Regions from separate parts of the Homo sapiens genome. Here region 2 is linked to region 1. Evidence: fine-mapped expression QTL. A gene starts in region 1. The other region holds a variant in brackets. All regions are shown on one strand. Distances are between the middles of the regions. Region 1 holds the start of PIP5K1C (phosphatidylinositol-4-phosphate 5-kinase type 1 gamma). Region 2 overlaps PIP5K1C (phosphatidylinositol-4-phosphate 5-kinase type 1 gamma).

Region 1 (8,648 bases):
TGGGAGGCCGAGGTGGGCAGATCACCTGACACCAGCCTGGCCAACACAGTGAAATCCCATTTCTACTGAAATTACAAAAATTAGCCAGGTATGGTAGCACACACCTGTGGTCTCAGCTACTTGGGAGGCTGAGGTGGGAGGATCGCTTGAACCTGGGAGGCAGAGGCTGCAGTAAGCCGAGATCACGCCACTGCACTCCAGCCTGGGTAACAGAGCAAGACTCATCTCAAAAAAGAAAAAACAAAAAATGGTAGTAAAATACGCACAACATACAATTCACAATTTTCACCATTTCTTTTTTTTCGAGTCTTGCTCTGTTGCCCAGGCTGGAGTGCAGTGGTGCCATGTTGGCTCACTGCAACCTCTGCCTCTCAGGTTCAAGTGATTCTCCTGCCTCAGCCTCCCGAGTAGCTGGGATTATAGGCCTGTGCCACTATGCCCAGCTAATTTTTTGGTATTTTTAGTAGAGACAGGGTTTCACCACATTGACCAGGCTGGTCTTGAACTCCTGACCTTAGGTGATCTGCCAGCCTCGGCCTCCCAAAGTGCTGGGATGACAGGCGTGAGCCACCGCACCCGGCCCATTTTCACCATTTCTTTCTTCTTCTTCTTCTTCTTTTTTTTTTTTTTTTTTTTTTGGAGACAGAGTCTTGCTCTGTCGCCCAGGCTGGAGTGCAGTGGTGCCATGTTGGCTCACTGCAACCTCTGCCTTTCGGGTTCAAGTGATTCTCCTGCCTCAGCCTCCCGAGTAGCTGGGATTACAGGCACGCGCCACCACGCCTGGCTAATTTTGTATTTTTAGTAGAGACGGGGTTTCTCCATGTTAGTCAGGCTGGTCTTGAACTCCCGACCTCAGGTAATCCGCCCACCTCGGCCTCCCAAAGTGCTGGGATTGCAGGTGTGAGCCCCCGCGCCCGGCCCATTTTCACCATGTCTAAGAGCACAGCTCCGTGGCCTTAAGCACATTCCCATGGCTGTGCAAACATCACCGCCATCATCTCCAGAATGTTCTCATCTTCTGAGACTGGAAGTCTGCCCCTGTGAAACACTCACTCCTCGTCTCCCCCCAAGCCCCTGGCACCCCCCATCCTACTTTCTGTCTCTGTGAATGTGACAACTCTAGGGACCTCCTAGGAGTGGAACCACACAGAATTTGTCTTTTTGTTTTTTTTGTTTGTTTTTTTTTTTTGCGGGGACAGACGGGGTCTTTCTCTGTTGCCCAGGCCAGAGTGCAGTGGTGCGATCATAGCTCACTGCAGCCTTGAGTTCCCGGGCTCAAGCAGTCCTCCCACCTTAGCCTACTAAGTAGCTGGCTAATTAAAAAACAATTTTTTTTGTAAAGATGAGGGGTCTCACTACACCTAGCTAATTAAAAAAATTTTTTTTGTAGAGATGAGAGGGCTCACTATGTTACCCAGGCTGGTCTAGAACTCCTGAGCTCAAGTAATCCTCCTGCCTTGGCCTCCCAAAGTGCTGGAATTACAGGCGGGAGCCTCTGTGCCCACCCCAAACATTATTTATGTGCATAGGTAATATAATCATTATGATTTACATTTATGTAAATAATATAAACGTTATTACTTAAATTAACATAAACAACATAAGCCTTATTATGTGCTTATATAAAGAACATAAATATGGCCGGGCGCAGTGGCTCACACCTGTAATCCCAGCACTTTGGGAAGCTGAGGCGGGAAGATCACGAGGTCAGGCGTTCAAGACCAGCCTGGCCAACATGGCGAAACCTCATCTCTACTAAAAATACAAAAATTAGCCGGGCGTGGTGGCACGTACCTGTAGTCCTAGTTACTTGGGAGGGTGAGGCAGGAGAATCACTTGAACCCTGGAGGCAGAGGTTGCAGTGAGCTCAGATCGCCCCCCTGCACTCCAGCCTGGGCAACAACAGCAAGACTCCATCTCAAAAAAAAAAAAGAAGGATATAAATATTGCTACTTACATTTGCATAAATATATATAATTTATTATGTATTTCTATAATTATATGTTTCTTATAATAGCAAACTGTATTATTATTGATAAAATAATATAAAGAAAACAATAACATATCTATACTTACGTAATACAAACGATGGAATATAAATATTATTTGCAATATGATAATAAACAGGTAGTTAATTGCAAATGTTATTGATATGTATTGCGTAGATCAATGTTAATAACATGTATTGTGTAGATCTATATATATATATATTTTTTTTTGATATGGAGTCTCGCTCTGTTGCCCAGGCTGGAGTGCAGTGACACGATCTCAGCTCACTGCAAGCTCTGCCTCCCAGGTTCACCCTATTCTCCTGCCTTAGCCTCCCAAGTAGCTGGGACTACAGGCGCCCGCCACCACGCCTGGCTAATTTTTTGTATTTTTAGTAGAGACGGGGTTTCACCATGTTAACCAGGATGGTCTCAATCTCCTGACCTCGTGATCCGCCCGCCTCGGCCTCCCAAAGTCTTGGGATTACAGGCATGAGCCACCGCGCCCGGCCCTGTGTAGATCAATATTATTTACATGTACTGTGTATATCACTGTTATTGGTATATTTTGTGCATATCAATGTTATTGACATGTAGTGTGTATATCAATGTTATTGACATGTAGTGTGTACATTAATGTTATTGGCATGTAGTGTGTATATCAATGTTATTGGCATGTAGTGTGTATATCCATGTTATTGGCATGTAGTGTGTATATCAATGTTATTGACATGTAGTGTGTGTATCAATGTTAGTTACATGTATTGTGTAGATCAATGTTATTGGTATTCATTGTGTATAGCAATGTGATTGGCATGTATTGCATATAGCAATGCTATTTGTATGTTTTATGTAGATCCATGTCAATGATATAGTATAGATTCATGTTATTGGCATGTATTGTGTATATCCATGTTATTGGCATGTATTGTGCATATCCGTGTTATTGGCATGTATTGTGTATATCCATGTTATTGGCATGCATTGGGTAACTCCATGTTATTGGCATGTGCTGTGTAGGTCCATGTGTGGTTTTTTTTGGGACAGAGTCTCACTCTGTGGCCCAGGCTGGAGGGCAATGGTGCGATCTCAGCTCACTGCAACCTCTCCCTCCTGGGTTCCAGCGATTCTCCTGCCTCAGCCTCCCGAGTAGCCGCGATTACAGGCATGTGCCACCACGCCCAGCTATTTTTTGTATTTTTAGTAGAGACAGGATTTCACCATGTTGGTCAGGATGGTCTTGAACTCCTGACCTCAGGTGATCCGCCCTCTTCGGCCTCCCAAAGTGCCGGGAATATAGGCGTGAGTCACCGCGCCCGGCCAGATCCATGTTATTGTCATGCGCTGTGCAGGTCCCTGTTATTGGCATGTGCTGTTTAGATCCATGTTATTGGCATGTGCTGTGTACATCCATATTATTGGCACGTGCTGTATAGATCCATATTATTGTCATGTGTTGTGTAGATCCATGTTATTGGTATGTGTTGTGCACAGCAATGTTATTGATACGTATCGTGCCTGTCAATCTTACTGACCTAATACGATGGAATGGCGAGCCTGGCTCTGTACTCCCACCCCTGGGCGCGAGGGGGCACTCGAGGCGCTCCTGGCTGCGGGTCGCAAGCAGGCCCCGCCCCCGAGCCCCGATTGGCCGCGCGCCGTCCGCGGCGTCGCACGCACGCAGGCCCCGCCCCGTCCGCCCCGCGCCGGCCCGGCGCGCCCTCCCTTGGCCGGCGGCGCTTGTTGTTCGGCGGCGGCGGTCGCAGCTCGGGTCCCCCTCGGGCGCCCCCGCCGCCGTCCGCGCGCGGCCATGGAGCTGGAGGTACCGGACGAGGCGGAGAGCGCTGAGGCGGGGGCCGTGCCCTCGGAGGCGGCGTGGGCGGCAGAGAGCGGGGCGGCGGCAGGTAACGGCCCGGCCTCCCGGGGCTGCGGCCCGCTGGGCTCGTCCGAGCGCCGAGAGTCGCGGGGCTGCGGGGCCGGGGCGGGGGCTGCACGGTCGCTGCGGGGGCGCCGCCGGTTCCAGGAGCCTGGGGCGGGGCAGTCCCCTGGAGCCGCGGGGAGGACGGGGCTGAAGCCGCGCCGGGAAGCGGGAGGCCTGCGAGGGGCTACCTCCCACCGCTCCCGGGCCGGGGGCGACTCGGCGTGGGCGCCGCTGGGGATCCCCGTTCTGCCTGACCCGCTCCCAGGGGCTGCCCGTCGTGTGAGTGGCGGCTGCTTGGGTGGAGGCGGGGGTCTCTGAGGCCGTGCGTGCCCACCTCCTGATGTCACCTCCCTTTCTGTAAGTCCCCAGACCTGAGTCCGGGTGCGCGACCTTTCCTCACCTTCCTGGGCCTCAGTTTACCTCCCTGCTAAAATGAGGGGAGGAAAAGGGTTACATCTCAAGATGCCTCCACCGCCCCGGCTGTGCACACAGGGTGCCCTGTCGCCCCCTTTTCCTCTCCCCGAGCCTTCCCCCAGGACACACTGGTGGGGCTGCGGGCTGGGCGGGGGGCACGGCTGTCTCATGCCCCCTTTAGCTGCTTCCTGGACCTCCAGCCGGGTAGGTGGCGGCAGCTGGGCCTTCCCTTCTGTGGGGACGGTGTGCAGAGCCCAGAGGAAGGGAACAGTTCCTTCTCAGTCGAGGTCACAAGCTCCCAAATCGGAAGTTTCCGGATTCACAAAATCCTCTGCTCCTCCCAGGCAGCCAGCAGCAGCGTCTCTGTAGACACCCACACGGGCATCCGTCCTCCTTCTCCCCCCAGGCCTCCCGAAGCTTCCTTGGTTGGCAGGCGGGCAAGCGGGCGGGCGGGCGATGCGTGCTGCCTGGGAGTTGGGGAGATGTCTGGAGAGAGAGAGAGTGTGGAAGTCATCAAGTCCCCCCCCCACCCCCCGCCTTGAAAGACACTCGTGGCTTCCCTCCCGGCGGCCATCTGGAACCGCTTGGTAGGTGACCCGGTTCCTTCCCCAGAGCCAGTGGCCTCGCCCCTTTCTTTGCGGGCAGCCGGTGTCCTGGCCTGGCCAGCAAGAGACATGGTGGAGGAACCCAGGCAGGGCACCAGGCCCCAGCCCGGGTTCCTTTCTTGGGCCCCCCAACTTCCGCTGTCAGCCCTCTGACCCCAGCTGGTCAGAGACAAAGTAGCCCAGGACTCGCTGACCAAAAGAAAACCACACCGCGACCATTCATCTTATCAGGGGCTCTGGGAGCACCGGGGACAGATAAAGTTGCCAGCTCCAGACTGAGCATGGTGGTGGGGTGGGAGAGCGGGGGAGTGGGGGGGTGGGGGTGGGGGGCCGGGGAGGGCTGGAAGGTCAGGGTCTGGCATCTCTGCCCATCCCTGAAATCCACAGAAATCTGACCCCAGCTGGCCATATACTGCTTCTGAATGTTTAAAATTCAGAGTTGCCTCACTCCTCCAACGCCATCCCTCCTGATGTTAGCGCTGGTGAGTTTAGGTTGTGCCTGGCTGGGCCACAGAGACGTGAGCACATAAAGGGGCCTGCTTGTTCTTCACCGAGATGGTTTCATGCCTCACTGGGGCTTCTGTGCCTTGGCAGAGGTATTTTGAGTCAGGAAATTAGGGGTGCTGAGCAACGCCCCTGGCTTCTGCCCACTCCATGCCAGGAGCACCTGCCAGTTGTGACAGCCACAAGTGACCCAGACACCGTTCAGTGTCCCCTGGGGGCAGGACGGCCCTGGTGAGAAATGCCACACGTTTATGACTCTGTGAACTGCTTGCTTTTTATCTCTGGTCATCTGGAGTCTCCCCACCCTATGTTGGTATCGGTTTGTAGAGAGGGCGAGCGCCAGGCAGTGGTTAAGGGGGAGCCCCAGAGTTGGTCCCGCCGATGTCCCCCTCCCAGCTCCGCGCTTCAGGTGCTGTGTGGCCGTCACTTCCCCGGGCTTCAGCGTCCCGTCTGTGAAGTGGGGTGATGACCGTGTGTGCTAGGGGCTGAGCCTGGGATGAGTTGGCGCTCGTGCTTGGTGATTGTCGTGCCGGTTGGCCACCCCTTTCCGGCCTCTCCACCATCGGTGCCTCCAGGCCCCTGCTGAGGCCCATGCCCGTGGTTTCTGGAGTCACCGCTCACTGTTAGAAGCGATGGCGACACCTTCCAGAAAGCTCAGCTACAGCGGGAGCCTTGTCCGACAGGGGCCGAGGGAGGCTGCCCGTTTCCCACGGCACTGCCAGCTCCCAGTGTCATCGTCCTTGGCGATTTCGGCTGATCCGATGGGAGGCAAAGCAATGTCTCGTTGGTGTTTAGAATTTGGTTCCTCTAATTGCCTGGGCTCCTGGCTCCCGAGGCGTGGCCTGAATGGCGTCTCCATGGGCCGTGGCCGTGGGGCACGTGGGGGCGGTCTCGGGAAGGCCGGGGCTTGGGATGCGGCTGTGCCCACTGTGTGGGCCGATGGCCTGTGGTGGAGTTTGGTCTGAGCTGTGGCCTGGGCGTGTCTGAGCCTCTCCCAGGCTGTCCTGTCTCTGTGATGCCCCAGAACGGTCAGCTCCATCCCTGCCCCTGCCCCACTCCCACGGCTGATCTGTCTCTGTGATGCCCTGGAAAGGTCAGCTGCATCCCTGCCCCTGCCCCACTTCCACGGCTGATCTGGCAGCAAATGATGGCAGCTTCACCTTCAGAACTGGCCCAGAACCCACTGACTCCTTCCCTGTCCTCTGCCTCTCCCGGGTCCAGCTTGGTCCTCCCGGGTCCAGCTTGGTCCTCCCTGGTCCAGCTCGGTCCTCCCCGGTCCAGCTCGGTCCTCCTCGGTCCAGCTCGGTCCTCCTCCGTACAGCTCGGTCCTCCTCCGTCTGGCTGAGTACTCCCCGGTCCAGCTCAGTCCTCCTCCGTCTGGCTCAGTCCTCCTCTGTCTGGCTCGGTCCTCCCCGGTCCAGCTCGGTCCTCCTCCGTCCGGCCCAGTCCTCCTCCATCCGGCTCGGTCCTCTATCCGGCTTGGTCCTCCTCCATCTGGCTCGGTCCTCCCGGGTCCAGCTCGGTCCTCCCCGGTCCAGCTTAGTCCTCCTCCATCCGGCTCAGTCCTCCCCAGTCCAGCTTGGTCCTCCTCTGTCCGGCTCGGTTCTCCTTCGTCCGGCTCAGTCCTCCTTCGTCTGGCTCGGTCCTCCTTGGTCCTCCTCGGTCCAGCTCGGTCCTCCTTGGTCCAGCTCGGTCCTCCCCGGTCCAGCTCAGTCCTCCTTTGTCCAGCTCGGTCCTCCTCGGTCCAGCTCGATCCTCCTCCGTCCAGCTCAGTCCTCCTCGGTCCAGCTCAGTCCTCCTTTGCCCCCTGAGCCAGGCCTGGCGCCCCTGCTCTTCCTCTGCTCCCTGTCCCACATTCCAGGAGGACCCCATTAAAAACCAGCGGCCCGAGTCCCGACCCTCCTCTGCTCGCAGCCCTCCATGGCTCCCACCTCCCTTGGGGTCAAAGACATAGTCCTCTTTGAAGCCCATCAGGCCCTGCACAGCCTGCCCCGGGCCCTCCCTGCCCTCCCTGCCCTCCCCTCCGCACTCTGCCCTCCCTGCCCTCCCGTCTGCACTCTGCTGTAGGCCCATGGGCCCCTTGCTGTTCCTCCAGCATGCAGGGCATGGTCCTGCCCCGGGGCCTTTGCACGGCTGCCCCCCACCCCCACCCCGGAATGCCCCTCCTCCCATCTGTGTCCTTTGCTCCCTTAGCGCTTTCCAGGTTTTGTGGGAGCATCTCCTCTCCGTGAGGCCTCCCTGCCCTGCTGTCACCACACAGCGGTCTCCCCTTCTCCGTCCCCTGCCCTCCCGGTTCCTCTTCCCTGATTGTGCCACCATAGCGTTTGTCACCACCTGAAACATATGGCTCTGCTGACGTGTTTTCTGACCATCTCCTCCTGAGCGAGAGCTCCACGAGGGCCAAGACCGTCTGTGCCACTCCTGCGGCATCCCCTGCGCCCGGAAGAGCTCAGCACAGTGCAGATCCTGGTGAACATCAGGTGCATGAGGCCAGCAGTGCCAGGGAGGAAGGGTAAGGTAGAATGGGGTGGCTGGGAAGGCCTTGCCAAGAAGGTGGCATCCGAGGGAGACCTGTGGGCATTGGGCAGGAAGAGGGCATGGCCCCAGCAGAGGCCCCGCCTGCCTGGAGCACAGTGTAGTGTGGTCACAGGGCGGCCGGGCAGGGAGTCAGCACCGCCACCAGGGCCTCCCTGTAGCTGTGGTGGTCTGTGTAAAAAGGTCAGGGAGGCCGGGCACGGTGGCTCACACCTGTAATCCCAGCATTTTGGGAGGCTGAAGCAGGAGGATCACTTGATCTCAGGAGTTTGAGACCAGCCTGGAGCAACATAGCAAGACCCCTGTCTCTACTAAAAAAAAATTAAAAGAAGTAGCTAGACGTAATGGTATGTACCTGTAGTTCCAGCTACTCAGGAGGCTGAGGCAGGAGGATCACCTGAGCCTGGGAGGCTGAGGCTGCACTGAGCTGTGATCGTGCCACTGCATGCCTGGGTGACAGCAGAATCGTATCTCAAAAAAAAAAAAAAAAAAGGGTCAGTGGGATTGTGGTGTCTCTTGTTGCAAGTCAGCAGGGCCCAGGCGGAGGCTGAGGACACTGGGGACGGAAAGTTCCCCATTCTCTCCCGCCCTGGCCGCCTCCCGGGATGCAGGTCAGGCACTGTGACCACCACAGCCTGGGTGTCCCAGTGGAGAGGCCTCGGGGGCCGGCCCTCCTGGGTT
Region 2 (8,648 bases), 66 kb after region 1:
TGTGTCCTGATGCCCTGCCAGGTGGGCAGCAGAGAAGGGAGAAGGGTCCTCGGTCCTGCCCCTGCCCCGGCACCCCCCACCTTCTGCTTGGCAGTCAGCTGTCCCCACCTGCTCCCCGCCACCTCCCTCCGCCTCTCCCACCCGACCACGGGGGTGGCCGCCTCATCCGCTGTCCTCTGTTTTCCTTCCTCCTCCGGCCCACCCGGCCCGCCCCGTCCAGTTCACGGATGGGAGGTACTGGATTTACTCTCCCCGCCATCGCCGACTGCGGGCCGTGACGCTGAGCGCCTCGGGGACTGTAAGTGACCGCAGCCGGCCACCCTGGGGAGAAGGGGCAGTGCCCCTCGGGCAGCAGGGAGCCGCAGGTCCCCGGCCGGAAGCTCAGTGTCTGACGTCAGTTGTTTTCCAGAAGGGCTTTGGGTAAATCACGGCTGCAATTGAGGTCAGCCACGCTGGCCCCGGACCAGGCGCTGGGCTGCATGCGTCACTGGGAATGTCATTCGGTCCCACGTCGAACCGGGCGCTCCATAGGGCAGCACCATCACCAGGTGCACAGCTGAGGCCCAGGGTCTGCTTCGGACCCCGGCCAGACCCCAGCGAGCCCCTCTCTGCCCCTGGACCCAGCCCTCTCGTGTCAGGGTGTCTTGGGTGGACGCTTCTCACTCGTGCAGACCTGGCTGCCCGTGGCCCCGCTGGCTGCACAGGGGAGGTTGCACAGGTCAGCAGAGTGGCTGCAGGGCCGGGCTCTGAACCGCAGGGCCATGGAGACGGGGAGGAGATGGTCTCTCCACACCCACCTCACAGATGGAGGCGCTGAGGCCTCGGCTCCCCTGGGAGCCTGGGAGACCACACGGTTTAGTCAAAATCCAGATCCCCAAGCTCTCAAGGAGGTCCCCCTGGGACGCCACATGGGCCCCACGTAGCTGTGAGATCCTCAGGGCCTGCTGTTGTCATTATGACCAATAAGCAAGGGGCCCAGAGAGCCTAAGAGACCTGCCCAGCACCGCACAGCCAGAACGGGGCGCAGACCCAAAGCAGGAGTGTCCCCTCGAGACAAAGCCTCCGCCGAGGCCGCCGTGACTCCCCGCCCATCAGCAAACCTCTCCGAGCACCTCTGTGTGCCAGGCACTGTGGAGTGACCCCAAGAGGTGGAGACCACTTCCCCGGCTGCTCTAGGCAGCTCCGTCCCACGGAGCCAGCGGGAAGCCAGCCACCGCGAAGCCGTGCCCCGGAGATCGTCCAGGAGCTGCCCAGAGGGGCCTGCTGGGAGGAGGAGCACTGGAGAGACCCAGCGGCCCTGCTGGCCACCCCACCATAGGCAGGGAGCAGTTCGCAGAGGCCGCCTACGGAGGGGGGTGCTTGGACTTTGAAAAACACCTGACTTGAAGGGGCAGACGTGGGGAGGGTGGTCTCGGCAGCAGGCACAGCAGAAGCGGAAGTGTGGGGGCCAGAAGGGAGGCAGGGCAGCCATTGAAAGCACCCCAAGGCCTGAGTGCTGAAGAGGCTGTGCCCTTGGTTCTGGTCTTCCTGGGGTCACCCGGTTCTGGGTCCCAGCTGCTACTGCCCCCCACTTCCCCTGTCTGCCCAGCTGCTGGCTGAGGGTGTCCCTCTCTGTCCCCCCAACTCCTGCAGGACAAGGAAGCCACCTGTCCTGCCCTTTCTTTTTTTTCATTTTTTGAGACGGAGTCTTGCTCTGTCGCCCAGGCTGGAGTGCAATGGCATGATCTCAGCTCACTGCAACCTCCACCCCCCAGGTACAAGCAATTATCCTGCCTCAGCCTCCTGAGTAGCTGAGATTACAGGCGCCTGCCACCATGCCTGGCTAATTTTGAGTTTTTTGTTTGTTTGTTTTTTGAGACAGAGTCTCGTTCTGTCGCCCAGGCTGGAGTGCAGTGGCACAATCTCGGCTCGCTGCAAGTTCCGCCTCCCGGGTTCACGCCATTCTCCTGCCTCAGCCTCCCGAGTAGCTGGGACTACAGGCGCCCGCCATCATGCCTGGCTAATTTTTTTGTATTTTTAGTAGAGACGAGGTTTCACCGTGTTCACCAGGATGGTCTCAATCTCCTGACCTCGTGATCTGCCCGCCTCAGCCTCCCAAAGTGCTGGGATTACAGGCGTAAGCCACCGCGCCCAGCCTTGTTTGTTTTTTTTGAGATGGAGTCTCACTCTGTCACCCAGGCTGGAATGCAGTGGCTCAATTTCAGCTCACTGCAACCTCTGGCCTGGGTTCAAGCGATTCTTCTGCCTCAGCCTCCCGAGTTGCTGGGATTACAGGCTCCTGCCACCATGCCCCAATAATTTTTTGTATTTTTAGTAAGAGATGGGGTTTTACCATGTTGGCCAGGCTGGTCTCGAACTCCTGACCTCAGGTATCTGCCCACCTCGGCCTCCCAAAGTTCTGGGATTACAGGCGTGAGCCACCACGCCCGGCCTTAATCTTTGTATTTTTAGTAGAGATAGGGTTTCGCCATATTGGCCAGGCTGGTCTTGAACTCCTGACCTCAAGTGATCCACCTGCCTTGGCCTCCCAAAGTGCTGGGATGACAGGCGTGAGCTCCTGCACCTGGCCTGTATCCCCGTTTCTAATGCTGTAGCAGAAGGATACTGTCATCCCTGCCCACGTGCTGTGTGTGCCCGGGATGCCCCTCCCAGAGAGCGGCTCTGAGGTGGCTGCTGCCACCCTCCTCCCTGCGGGCCAGTTCTTTCAGGGCTCAGGTGGGGACCCTGTTTTGGCCCCACATTTTCAAGTCCCCATGGGATCCATCAGTGCAGCCACCAAATCAGTACTGAGCACCCACATAGGCTCCCCATGCCGGGCTCTCAAGGGACGTTGGGTGGACCTGACCTGCCATTCCCACGTCAGGGATTCCAGGCTGCATTTGCTACCCTGGAGGAACAGGCAAGGCCTGCGCTGGGGTCCTGGCCCCTCAGTGCAGGAGTCAGTCCTCCGCGATGCGGCCTCGCAGGGCAGGAGTGCGCTGCCCTCGGTGCCCAGGGCCCGGGAACAGGGGTCTTGTGGAAGCTGTAGGATCGGGCAGGGTGGAGTGAGCACAGAGGTGGGCCCTTTAGAGGGAGCATGGAGGCAGAGCCCGAGGCAGGGAGAGGCAGTGCTCCTGCAGGTGAGGTCTGGGCTCACCTGGAGCACAAGGGAGGCCCCTGCTGGCCCAGGCTGGGCAACTGGGAGCTGGCAGAGGCATGGGTTGGCCTGGGCAGCAGGTGGGCAGCGTCATCCTGACTGGAAGGACGAGCAGTGGGTCTTGGGGTGATGGACTGGGTTGTGACTGTGGCGAGTTTAGGGGCCGAGGGCCGCCAGGTGGACGTGGCCAGGCAGGTGTGTATTCAGGCCTGGCACTTCAGGCCGAGGCCAGGCCTGGTGGAAATTCGCAGGTCATCTGTGCCGGGAGGGGCGTTGAAGGCTGGGTTGGTGACAGAGGCCCGAGAGAGAGGAGGACACAACAAGGAAGACAGGGCGGCCAGGCTGGAGCCCTGAGAAAGCAGAGCAGCCTAGGGGCAGGAGAAGCAGGGGGAGCTTGAGGGGGTGGGGGCTCCTCAGGAGGCGGGACGGAGGTGTTGGAGGAACGCACCCTCCCTCCCTCCCCAGATCCCACCCAGACCTGGGACCCCTCACGCAGGCACAGCTGGGAAGAGCTGTCCGTGTCCCTGCACACGGCCCTGCCTGTGCCTAGCCCTGAACTTGGCCCTCACTCTGCCCTGCTGCTCAGGAAGGCGTCTCCTGGCTCTTGCAGGGTGGGTGGTCCGAGCCTCAGTCTCTCCTAGCACGTCTGTGCTGGCAGAGGGGACTGGCCCTGCCCGCAGGCAGCCATATATTCAGGTCCCAAAAGGCTTCTGGGTTGGGAAGTAGGTCCGGCACCCCGACCTCCCAGGACCCCCATAGAGAGCTTCCAGGAGCCTGTGCGCTGGTGCCCGTGGCACAGGCAGGATTGGGGGCTGTGGTGGGGCCGGGCTGTGGAGGAGGAGGAGGAGGAGGAACACTCGGTGCTCCAGGTCGCGACCCCCACCCGCTTCCGCCGGCTCTGTCACCTGCTATCTCAGGCCCTGCCTCGACTGAACTAACTGCTTTCTGCCGCCCGCCGTGCCCCGCCCCGCCAAGCTGAGCTGAGGCCCCAGGCCCGTCCAGGTTGGGAGCAAGTCCACCGGGTCAGAGAGGGCAGCTGGGCTGAGCCACCCCTCGTCTTCCATGGGGGATTCGCCTCTTTTATGTTCTCCTGTCTCTTCCTTCCTCCCTCTGCCTCTCTTGCACCTCCTCGCACCCTGCTCTTCCGCGCCCTCCTGCACGCGCGCCCACCTGCCAGCCCACCGATGAGAGGAGCTGGGTGTACTCCCCGCTCCACTATAGCGCCCAGGCCCCCCCGGCCTCCGACGGCGAGAGCGACACAGTAAGTGCAGCCCAGGTGCACCCGCCGGTCCCGTGGGCTCCAAGGTTCTACTGAGCGTGGTCCCCAGCTACTGGGATAGGCAGGGACTGAGGCCCGGGGCGGGAGGGCACAGGTGGCCCAGAGCTCCACCCTGGGCTCTCTGGCTCTGAGGTGGCCGTGGGCTAAGTGTCTCAGGGCCTGTGTTGGCCCAAGGAAGCCAGTCCCTGGCAGGGGGCCTGGGGTGGGCCCTCGCCCCGCCCACC[T/C]TCACCTGTCCTCTTGCTCTTGCAGTAATTTCTATGCAGCCCCCGACCCAGAGCCGAGCTCCACTTCTGCTCCGGCTGCCCCCGAAGGCGCTGCCCACCCCGCTGAGGCCCAGAGCTCGGGAGATGCCCGCCTCGCCGCCCCACCGGACCTCGTCCTCCCCCTGCACGGATGCCGACGGCCGGGCCCCTCCCCGACAAGCCTCCCAGGGCCCCGGCACCCCGGTCGGCAGCCTGCCCCTGTGAGACCCACCCTCCCGAGCGGCCAATCGCATTTGAGTCCTTATTTGGCACAGAGACGGAAGCACGTGTGTGCCGTTTTAGGAAAAGAACAAAAAAGACACAAACAAACCAACCAGAGGGAGAAGAGCCCCTGCCCACTGCACTCTTTGGTTCTCTGCTGTGCCTGCCTGTGTCCTGAGGAAGAAGCCAGGCTGTTCGCGGTGGCCTCTGGGGACCTGAGCCCCGGGGGCCCCATCGGCCTGCAGAGGGGACGGCTGGGGTCCCGAGCAACTCTGCCTCCATCCACGTGGGAAGCGGACCCTCCTGCCCTCAGCTTGGGTTTGGGGGCCTCAGTGCAGGACATCTGGCCTGAACATCGACTGTGGGGACAGCCCTCGCCCTGCCAAGCACTGCGGCCACTCAGCAGCTATGTTCCCGCCGCAGTGGGGCCCTGACGCCCACCTCCCAGGTGCCCCTCGAGCAAAAACCTCTGGCGCCTCCAATCCAGACCCACCACAGCTGGAGGGCCAGGCCTCCTCTTCCCCAGGCTGCCACCCACGCTGGCGGAGCTCAGGGCTGGGGACTTGTCCTTCTCTTCCAACGTAGGCCACTCAGCAACTGGCATGGAGGGCCCAGGCAACGGAGACGTTTTCTCCATGGCAGGACAGAGCGGGAGGCCGGGCCTTGGGCCACAGGAGACCAGCTCAGGGCGGAAGGTCAGGCTCCCCGCCCCCTCCACGTGGAGACATGGCCTAGGGGGCCAGGCCCGGCTCCACAGGAGTCTCCTTCAGGACTGGTGTGGATGTCCGCCGCCTCTTTCTTGTTTAAGTGATGTGATGTCTCCGAGGAGGGGAGAGAAGACTTTGTTTCCGACTCATCACCCTCCAAGAGGGCAGCGCTCCCAGTGGTGGGACTCAGCCCAGACTGCCCTGGGGCAGCTTCCTGGGCCCGCTGCGCTCAGAGGGTGCTGGTTGGAGGCCAGAGCTCGGCAGAGTCACCCACCCTGCCCTTCCCCAGGACCCCTGAGAGGGGCTTATTGGTGATGGCTGTGGGAATCCCCCACTTCCAAGATGTGCCCAGGATGTGAGGAGCTGGAGTGGAAGCTGCACCTTTGGGAAGAATTCCTCTCCAGACCTGGCAGAGCCTGGTGTGGGGTCTGAGACGGCCGGAGAACCTCCCAGGCAGGGCTCTGTGTTTTGTCTGTTACAACCTCCGTATGACGCCACGCCACCCGCTGTTCACGTCCCGTCGGCCTCCTGCACAGCCCACACGCTGCGCCCGGAAGGCCCCTGCTGTGGAGAAGCCGGACCCATCCCCGAGGTCCCCAGCGAGGACACACACTCCACGAGAGCAGCCCCTCCACTCTGCCCAGGAGAGGGGCCGACCCTCCTCGGGAACCGGCCAGCCGCGTGGCTCCCAGCATCCATCAGGACAAGCCCACGTGGGGTCCTCCCTGCGTGCTCAGAGGGTCTGTCCAGCCCTGGGAAGCGACCTTGGCCTCAGTTCACAGCCTGGTGCTCATCTGCTGGCACCGGGCATCCACCCATCAGCCCCCGCCCTGTCCCTCCGAAGGACACCCAGCAGGCACCCCCCGGGGAGGCAGGGGCAGAGGTCAGAAGGGGTGTCTGGGACCTGGATGGCCAGCAGGGACAGGGGCATTGTCATCTCAAAGGCCCAACCCCCAGAGGCCACACCAGTCCTCCCAGGGAGTCCTCGAGTCGCCCTGCCCAGAGCCCTGGCACCAGAGACGCCAAGAGCCTGTGGGGTGACTCGGAGCAGCAGGTGTGGCCCCGGGCGGGCGGCACCGCGTCCAGGGCAGCCTCCCTCCGCTGAGTGACACGGGACACCAGTGCCCGGCCGACGCGCCTTTGCAGGAGAAATGTGCAAACCTCTGTGGATACCATTTCATTTCCATTCTTGTGTTGTCTCCAAGGCCCTTTTGGAGATATACTTGGTGTTGGTTGTGTTTTTTGGTTCCTTTTCAGAGAACTGTAAACCGAGGCTGACGTGCTCCACTGACTGTGCCGAGGGGCGGGGGCAGGAGGACGGCAAGACCTATTTATAATATTTAGCGAACTCGGTCTCCCTCAGATCCCCCGCGAGGGAGGCTGCTGGACCCACCCCGCTGTCCCCCATGATAGAAGTCTGTAAATACCTTGGTGACCAATGCCCACTTCCCCTCCTGGGTCACCTCTGATGGCTGCTGTCCACTGAGAACGTGGGCAGTGTCCAAATTCCTGTACTGTAAAGACTAAAAGGCGTTTGCTCTGAGACTGACAAGGCGGAAACTTCCATGTGTCTCCTGCCAGGCTCTGTCCCCCTACGCCATCCCGACACGTCCCCGTTCCCCCGAAACCTGGCTCAGTGCAATACTCCCATTGCCATGGGGTCCTTCACCATGGTACTGTCTCCACAGCCCTCAGTCCCCACCCCAGGAGAGGCGCCTGCCACCTCCTCCTCATCTCCGGTGGTTCAATCGCTCCGCCTGTCCCCAACCCAGTCCCATTTTTATGGCCAAACTGATTCTGAAACAAAATGAAACTGCAAACCTCGTGTGTCTTAACTCCCCCCAGGGATGCCACTCCATTCCTCCGCCCCGTGGTCTGGTGCGTGACAATCCAAAGCGCCGAGACGAGGGTGCTGTGTCCCTCAAACCCAGAGTGGTGGGCGCCTCTGAAACCATACAGCCACTCCTGGCCCCAAACACTGGTTTGCATCCCAGGTTCCTCGCCCACCTACCCCCGCCACACCCCGTCTTTTTAGAGATCTCTCTAATAAATCGGGTAATAAGCATCCGCCTGTTTGCCTTTCTGTGGGTTCCGGAGGTCTGGTTGGGAGTCTGAGGAGTGACTTTGTTCTGTGTTTTTTGTTTTCTGTTTTTGTTTGTTTGTTTGTTTTCTTTTTAAGAGATGGAGTCTCGCTCTCCACCCAGGCTGGAGTGCAGTGGCGCAATCTCAGCTCACTGCAAGCTCCGTCTCCTGGGTTCACACCATTCTCCTGCCTCAGCCTCCTGAGTAGCTGGGACTACAGGCGCCCGCCACCACGCCCAGCTAATTTTTTATTTTTAGTAGAGGCAGGGTTTCACCATGTTAGCCAGGATGGTCTCGATCTCCTGACCTCGTGATCCGCCCACCTCGGCCTCCCAAAGTGCTGGGATTACAGGTGTGAGCCACCGCACCCAGCCTGTGTTTTGTTTTTTTTTTTTTTGAGATGGAGTCTCGTTCTGTTGCCCAGGCTGGAGCGCAGTGGAGTGATCTCAGCTCACTGCAACCTCTGCCTCCCGGGTTCAAGCCATTCTCCTGCCTCAGCCTCCCGAGTAGCTGGGACCACAGGCGCCCGCCACCACACCTGGCTAATTTTTTTGTATTTTTAGTAGAGACGGGGTTTCACCACATTGGCCAGGCTGGTCTCAAACTCCTGACCTCAAAGGACCCACCCGCCTCATCCCAAAGTGCTGAGATTACAGGCGTAAGCCACCGTGCCTGGCCTGAGGACTGACTTTGAATCTTAGAGAAGAGAGAAACCTTTGTGAGATTGATGCTGATACCAGTAATAGGACCCAAACACCTTACCAGCTGTGAACCTTCTTCAGGTCCCAGTTCAGCTCAGAAAACATTTTATTGTTTCCAACATCTTTGCAGCCCCCCAAAGTTTGTATTTGTTCTGCTAGAGCGGTTCCAATTCAGTCACGTTTGGACCCCTTGAAGGGAACACATTTATCTTGGACTCCCAGGTTGAGAAACTACATTGAAAACAAGATCCTGGCCAGGCGTGATGGCTCACACCTGTA

Evidence for each region.
Region 2: its variant is fine-mapped to the expression of PIP5K1C in pancreas (GTEx, PIP 0.97).

The regions. Positions count from the first base shown.
Region 1 is chr19:3,695,541-3,704,188 of GRCh38, reverse strand. It overlaps PIP5K1C (phosphatidylinositol-4-phosphate 5-kinase type 1 gamma), which reads left to right and starts at 3,721. Exons shown (of 18, transcript NM_012398.3): 1 at 3,721-3,892. The coding sequence starts at 3,799. RefSeq lists silencers at 3,473-3,962, 4,043-4,182 and an enhancer at 3,881-4,664.
Region 2 is chr19:3,629,186-3,637,833 of GRCh38, reverse strand. It overlaps PIP5K1C (phosphatidylinositol-4-phosphate 5-kinase type 1 gamma), which reads left to right. Exons shown (of 18, transcript NM_012398.3): 17 at 4,314-4,397; 18 at 4,665-7,651. The coding sequence ends at 4,667. Among named protein-coding and RNA genes, the nearest start is that of CACTIN, 6.7 kb to the right of the region's middle. The variant T/C (reference allele first, on the strand shown) is at 4,640.